2 linked regions of the Homo sapiens genome follow. The protein of the gene in region 1 interacts with the protein of each later gene in a pairwise test. Each region holds a gene or a part of one and is shown on either strand. Other genes may lie near its edges. The genes, in order: PSD and RAB40C.

The links.
Region 2: the proteins of PSD (region 1) and RAB40C interact in a two-hybrid assay, tested with the Homo sapiens proteins (one large-scale study listed by IntAct).

What each region holds. Positions count from the first base shown.
Region 1 is NC_000010.11:102,412,091-102,415,895, reverse strand, and holds part of PSD (PH and SEC7 domain-containing protein 1), read left to right. Parts: intron 1-666; coding exon 667-1,033; intron 1,034-1,698; coding exon 1,699-2,127; intron 2,128-3,320; coding exon 3,321-3,515; intron 3,516-3,668; coding exon 3,669-3,749; intron 3,750-3,805. UniProt on the Homo sapiens protein: Guanine nucleotide exchange factor for ARF6. Induces cytoskeletal remodeling.
Region 2 is NC_000016.10:596,418-600,222, forward strand, and holds part of RAB40C (ras-related protein Rab-40C), read left to right. Parts: intron 1-3,805. UniProt on the Homo sapiens protein: RAB40C small GTPase acts as substrate-recognition component of the ECS(RAB40C) E3 ubiquitin ligase complex which mediates the ubiquitination and subsequent proteasomal degradation of target proteins.

The sequences.
Region 1 (3,805 bases):
ATGTCTCCCCAGGCCTCAATCTTTCCATCTGCGCTATGATGGGAGGCTGGAGGATAGGACTGGGCAGGGCACCTGGAGGAAGCTGAGTAATGGAGGGAGGGGACAGAAGGATATTGAGGGGCATTCCATGGAGTAGAAAAGAGGCTCAGCAGGGCTCAGTGGCCCCAGTATTTTGGGAGGCCAAGGCAGGAGGACTGCTCAAAGCCAGGAGTCCAAGACCAGCCTGGACAACAAGCAAGTCTCTACCAAAAATTTAATTAGCTGGATGTAGTGGTGTGCACCTATAGTCCTAGCTACTGGGGAGGTTGGGTGGGAGGATCCCTTGAGTCCAGGCAGTCAAGGCTGCAGTGAGTTATGATTGCACCACTGCACTTCAGCCTCAGTGACACAGTGAGACCCTGTCTCAAAATAAATAAATAAATAAATAAAAAAGACAGAAAAAGGCTGGTCTTCCCCCAGCTCCTCAAAGCCATTTGACAAGAACTTGATTTAAAATGAGCTCCACTGGCACCAGGAACAAGCTAAGTATGTAGCAGGAGGAATGGTGGCTAGACAGTGAAAGAACTTCCTGTCAATATGAGGCAGTGGGCAGAGATCCTAGAGCAGAATTAGGACAGGGAGCTGACGTGGATAACCTCCTGACCTGGATGCCTATGCACACTACAGGTGCTAAGCCCCCAGAGCAGGCCCCCCCATCTCCACCTGGGGTGGGCTCAAGGCAGGGCTCTGGGGTGGCTGTGGGGCGAGCAGCCAAGTACTCCGAGACAGACCTGGACACGGTGCCCCTGAGGTGCTACCGCGAGACTGACATCGATGAGGTGCTGGCTGAGCGGGAGGAGGCCGACTCGGCCATCGAAAGTCAGCCCAGCTCTGAGGGCCCACCAGGCACTGCCTACCCACCTGCCCCACGGCCCGGCCCACTCCCTGGCCCTCATCCCAGCCTCGGCAGTGGCAATGAGGATGAGGACGACGATGAGGCAGGTGGGGAAGAAGATGTGGACGACGAGGTGTTTGAGGCCTCTGAAGGGGCCCGGTGAGTGGGGAAGTGGGAGGGGGAAGTGGGAGAGGGAAGCGGCTTGCTCCTTCGCACTGGCCCACAGGCAGAGCCGGGCTCAAAGGGCCTGGGATAGAGATGGGTGTGGGGCTGGCGGGGCAGTGTGTATAGCAGGAGATTCTAGACAGAGGCCTGAGGCTTGGCAGAACACTGGGGATGTGGGGAGCAAAGAGGCCAGGGGTTCTAGCAGAACAGGGGGCAGGGTGAGAGGCCAGAGGCCACAGTCAAGCCCAGGAACACAGGAGCATGAGTCTGGATCCTGGATCCTGGTGGGAGAGTGGGGAGTGTGGGGACATTCCTTTCCGTCTCACACCCCAGTGTCGCTTGGAGCCTCATCTTCTCCTAAGATGTTGCTAGAAATAGAAATGGGATGGCAGAAGGGAAGCGGATCACGGAAAAGGAGGAGAAAGGGAGATTAGCAGGGAGGGAGGGGATGGGGTGCTGGGGACTGGTAGGGCTGGTGTGCCCCAGGGGGCACTGAATAGCTTGGCGCCCTACCCTAGAGGCTCTTTTTTGTTAGTGGGCTGGAGCCAGTGAAAAGGGGATGATAATCCCCTTAGCAGAGTCAGTGTGAGAGTTCAGTGAAATCCTGCCCCAGCCCTGTGATCTGGGCCCCTAATCAGAGATTCTCCCTGCCCCTGCAGGCCAGGGAGCCGGATGCCTCTCAAGTCACCTGTGCCCTTTCTACCTGGGACGAGCCCCTCGGCTGATGGGCCTGACTCTTTCAGTTGTGTGTTCGAAGCCATCCTGGAGTCACACCGGGCCAAAGGCACCTCCTATACCAGCCTCGCCTCGCTGGAGGCCTTGGCCTCACCTGGCCCAACCCAGAGCCCCTTCTTCACCTTTGAGCTGCCTCCCCAACCCCCTGCACCCCGGCCCGACCCACCAGCTCCCGCCCCACTTGCCCCTCTTGAACCGGATTCTGGTACCAGCTCTGCTGCTGATGGTCCTTGGACACAGAGAGGGGAGGAGGAGGAGGCAGAGGCCAGAGCCAAGCTGGCCCCAGGGAGGGAGCCCCCTAGTCCCTGCCACTCAGAGGACAGCCTTGGGCTGGGGGCAGCACCCCTTGGCAGGTAAGTAATTCCTTTTGTCCCTCAGACTTGAGGCCCCCAGGGCTCCAGAAACAGCTGCTGTAAGGGACAGATCCTGAGTGTGAGGATTGGTTTATATTCCTGACCCCTGAGTAGGGGTGGTTAAGGGATGCAGATCCTGTTTTCCTATTTGGAGGACTACTGCCATTAGCTGTGAGGGAGAGTCCCTCACAGCACCCCTCTTGGTCTCAAGTCCAGTGGCTTGAGAAAGCATGATTCAGCATTGAAGGATCCCAGGAGAATACCCTTCTTGCTCTCCTGGAGGGCCCTTTCTTCCCTTGGCAGAGTCTTTAGCCTGCTCAGAATTCTTGTGACCTTACCCTCACCCAGCCTGAAGGCTTCACCAAAGATGCAGCCACCAGCCTCTCCCACTGCCTCCCTCCCATGTCACCCCTGCCTAATCAGGCATCTCTCGTCCAGCTCCAGGAAGTCCTTTCACAGTCTAACCTTTCTGCTCTCCCCTCTGCCAGCTACCCTCTCAGTCATGGAAGCCATGGCAACAGGAGGGGGTGGCCAGGGAGACCGGGTTGCCTAGCAACCAGGAGTTTCCGGCCTCTGTCTCTGGGCTGACAGGTGGCTTTGCGAGTAGAGCAGCTGGGGTGGGAAGGGGAGGAAAGAAAGGGAATGAGGGTATGCACCCCGACCCTTAACCCCCTAACTCCAGAGCCTGCTTCTGTGTGGGCAGAGGGGGAGCACCAAGGAGAGGTTCCTCTCCCTAAAAAGCAGGAGGGGGAAAGCCTTCGGACCAGTATCCCTGCTGCCCTCAAATCTTTCCCTGGCCCTCCACAGTTCCTCCGTGGTAGCCCATCTATTCCAGCTTTGTCCATAGTCTAAGAGACAAAGGACTATGTTCTGTGTAGGGCCAGGGTGGGAACAGATAATCTATGTCTAATAGCAAATGTAGGCCCCTGGGAGCTTGAGGAAGCAGCCAGAACTCCCACAGCAGCAAGACGGATGTGGGTTAGATTTGAGGCAGGACTTCCACAGAGAGGTGGTAATGATGGAGTAGGCTGATGGAGAGAATCTAATCTCCTTCCCTGGAAAAAAGAAGAATGCTTTCCCCATGTCCCTCCACTCCCTCCCCTTCTCCATCTTCTGGGCCTGGAGGCAGAAGGAGGGTCTGGATGGCTCCTAAGGACCCTGCCCCAGCCTGAGCTGGTGTTCTACCCCGGCAGCGAACCACCCCTGAGCCAGCTGGTGTCCGACTCAGACTCAGAGCTGGACAGCACAGAGCGGCTGGCCCTGGGAAGCACAGACACCTTGTCCAATGGGCAGAAAGCGGACCTGGAGGCTGCGCAGCGCCTGGCCAAGAGGCTGTACCGACTAGATGGCTTCAGGAAGGCCGATGTGGCCCGGCACCTGGGCAAGAAGTAAAGCCACTAGGCTGGGACTGAGGATGGGGGCAGAGGGAATGCATCCTGAAGGCAGCTCTCCATCTAATGTCCCCTGGTCATTGGGTAATCCCCACCTGACCCCCTGCACTTCCCCTTGAGACCCTACCTGTCTCTCTGCCCTGCCCACAGCAATGACTTCAGCAAACTGGTGGCTGGGGAGTACCTCAAGTTCTTTGTCTTCACGGGCATGACTCTGGACCAAGCTCTCAGGTGGGTGTTGACCCCTTGGAGGACAGCCCCCACTCTCCGGGGTTCGTGTTAGGGCC
Region 2 (3,805 bases), on another chromosome or scaffold:
CACAGCTGAGTCCTCCCCTGCGCAGCACATGGTACGATGCCACCCCACCGAGGGCCGTTCTGGGGCCCAGGGGCCACGTCAGCCAGGGTGTCATCCGCCGGGCGTTTGGAGTAAGCAGGGAAAGGTGTCGGCGTCCAGCATCCTGGTGCGGAGAACGCTGCCGAACCACTGTGAGAAGGCGGGGAGACTGCTTGTCAGGCTGAGCTGACTTCCTGGGCGGTCGGGAGAAGGATGTGCAGACTGTGGAACTGGCGGGTGTCAGGGACCAGAAGTTACGAAGGCGGTGGGAAGAGGAGCAGCTGTGGGAAGAAGGACTGGCTGCCAAGACCATGGGCTGTGGGCATCCTCAGGGCAGGAGCTGGGTGGAAGAGGGGCCTCTTCAGTCCTCTTGGCAGTGAAGGTAAACAGATGTCAGCAGGGTGGACTCGCACTTTGAGCCTAAGGTAGCGAGGAGGCTTCTGAGCCGACCTGGGGATGGCGGCGCACTCTGATACAGGCAGTGCGCGGCTGTCTCGTGCTGAGATCAGGATTTTGAGTAAAGCAGAGATTTCTGGACGTTTGTCCTTCAGAAATTAGCGGAGGGACAAGGGCATTGGCGCTGTGGAGAGGTAGGGACCCATGGGTATGGGGCGGAAGACCAGGGCACGACCAGACACCGCCAGGGTGCTGCACATGTAGGTAGCAGGGGGAGGTGGTCCAGGCAAGATGGGATGGGAGGGGCTCAGGAGCAGCCAGGTTCTAGTGCTGGTGATGAGGTGGGTGGTGGCAGGGGCATGTGGAAGGGTCTTCTGACCATGGCTTACAGAGGGCTTGGTGCTGGGGGGCCTGGAGTTGTGGAAAGGGTGAAGGGAAGAGTTGGTCCCATATTCCCAGATGGCAGAGTGGAAACAGAAGCACTCGGCCCCTGAGCAGCCTTCGCCGTCTTTACAGTGAACACAGTCCTCAAACCAAACTGGGAAGGATTCGAATCCTGGATGGGTGATGTGGTCCTGGCTGTGTAAACTGACCCTGATGAAAGACATGCCCATCCTGTGAGAGGGACAGCCATCTAGCATCTTTTTTTTTTTTTTAATTTTTATTTTTTGAGACAGAGTCTTGCTCCGTTACCCAGGGTGTAGTTCGATGGCACTATCTTGGCTCGCTGCAACCTCTTGAGCCTCATGGGTTCAAGCGATTCTCCTGCCTTGGCCTCCTGAGTAGCTGGGATTACAGGCATGCACCACCACACCTGGCTAATTTTTTACATTTTTAGTAGAGACAGAGGTTTTGCTGTGTTGGCCAGGCTGGTCTTGAACTTCTGACTTCAAGCAATCCGCCCGCCTCAGCTTCCCAAAGTTGGTGGAATTACAGGCATGAGCCACTGTGCCCAGCCCAGCTCAGCATCTTTGGAAAAGAGCAGAGGGCTGGGCACGGTGGCTCACACCTGCAATCTCAGCACCTTGGGAGGCCGAGGTAGGCGGAGTGCTGGAGCCCAGGAGTTTGAGGCCAGCCTGGGCAACACAGTGAGACCCCATCTCTACAAAAAAAAAAAAAAAAAAAAAAAAAAAGGCCGGGTGCAGTGGCTCACACCTGTAATTCCAGCACTTTGGGAGGCCAAGGTGGGTGAATCACGAGGTCAAGAGATTGAGACCATCCTGGCCAACATGATGAAACCCCGTCTCTACTAAAAATACAAAAATTGGCCAGGCATGGTGGCTCACGCTTGTAATCCCAGCACTTTGGGAGGCCAAGGCAGGTGGATCACGAGGTCAGGAGATCAAGACCATCCTGGCTAACATGGTGAAACCCTGTCTCTATAAAAATACAAAAAATTAGCTGGGCATGGTGGCGGGCACCTGTAGTCCCAGCTACTTGGGAGGCTGAGGTACGAGAATGGCGTGAATCCAGGAGGCAGAGCTTGCAGTGAGCCGAGATCACGCCACTGACTCCAGCCTGGGTGACAGAGCGAGACTCCACCTCAAAAAAAAAAAAAAATACAAATACAAATACAAAAATTAGCCGGGCGTGGTGGCGCATACCTGTAGCCCCAACTACTTGGGAGGCTGAGGCAGGAGAATTGCTTGAACCTGGGTGGCGGAGGTTGCAGAGAGCTGAGATTGTGCCACTGCACTCCAGCTTGGTGACAGAGCGAGACTCTGTCTCACAAAAAAAAAAAAAAAAAAAGAAAAAAGAAAATTAGCTGGGTGTGGTGGTGCACGTCTGTAGTCCCAATTACTTGGGAGGCTGAGGTGGGAAACTCACTGGAGCCTGGGAGGTGGTGGCTGCAGTGAGTCTGACTGTTGCACTACGTTCCAGCCTGGGTGACAGAGTGAGACCCTGTCTCAAAAAATAAAAAATAAAGAAAAGAGGATGGAAGAAGAGAAGAGCTGAGTCCTGGAAATGGGCAGGTACTTTACAGTTTGTACAGCGGCCGGATGTAAGAACCTCATGTCAACCCTGAGTGAAGGTGTAGGCCGGGCGGTCAAGCACAGCACTCTCCAGCAGCTCCAGCAGCGTGGGTAACCCGGTGGGAGCCTGTGTGCTGCTTTCCCTGCCCGGGGCCGGCGGCTGCTGCTGGGCTTTCGCCTGACTTCCTGGTCAGCAACGTTGTCGGCCACCTGGGCACAGCAGGTACAGCCTGTGTGTCAGACCTAGCTGGGAGGGGCGGTAATAGGGTAGATGACATCAGGATTCAGGACTCTGAACACAAACACAGTGACACTGATCAGGGTTGCCGAGGTGCTGTGTTTCGGTCCAGAAAGTCACTGCTGCAGGGGAGGGGAGTATGGTCACAGCCCAGGCCCCGGCCCCGGCCGAAGCTGCCACTGACAGGAGACCCTTCTCTGCCTGTGCCACCAGCTTTGCTCCGAGGGGTGTCTGTGTCCTCAGGCTCTGCCAAGGCAGTGTCAGGCTGATGCCTGCCCGTGTCGGCCGGCCACAGCCCTAGTGGCTGCCCGCAGAGTCTTGCGCCCACCTGATTCCTGCCTGAGAGGAGCCGCCAGGTCAGCTGATGCCAGCAGGACCCACTTCACCAGGTCAGCAAGGAGGAGGCAGCTTCCCTTGGGGCCACGCCGTGCCTCCTCCGTGTGCGCTGCTGCCATGGCTGCTTCTGTCGATAGGCATGTACGTGAAAATGCACACCCGTGGGTGTTCGCTACTGTCAGCGTGGATTCAGCAAGGTTTTGTTCCCTCGTGGCATCAGTCAGCGTGGATTCAGCAAGGTTTTGTTACCTCGTGGCATTAATCAGCGTGGATTCAGCAAGGTTTTGTTCCCTTGTGGCATCAGTCAGCGTGGATTCGCAAGGTTTTGTTCCCTCGTGGCATCAGTCAGCGTGGATTCGCAAGGTTTTGTTCCCTCGTGGCATCAGTCAGCGTGGATTCGCAAGGTTTTGTTCCCTCGTGGCATCAGTCAGCGTGGATTCGCAAGGTTTTGTTCCCTCGTGGCATCAGTCAGCGTGGATTCGCAAGGTTTTGTTCCCTCGTGGCATCAGTCAGCGTGGATTCGCAAGGTTTTGTTCCCTCGTGGCATCAGTCAGCGTGGATTCGCAAGGTTTTGTTCCCTCGTGGCATCAGTCAGCGTGGATTCGCAAGGTTTTGTTCCCTCGTGGCATCAGTCAGCGTGGATTCGCAAGGTTTTGTTCCCTCGTGGCATCAGTCAGCGTGGATTTGCAAAGTTTTGTTCCCTTGTGGCATCATACTCCTTTCCTGTTTGGTTTGGGACTCCCATGGCCCCCTTGATGTTGGAGCCTCTTCAGGTGGCACCTGCGTCCTGGGCTATGCCCTGAGTTCCCGGAGCTCCCTGTGTCCTGGAACAGTCTGTACTTCC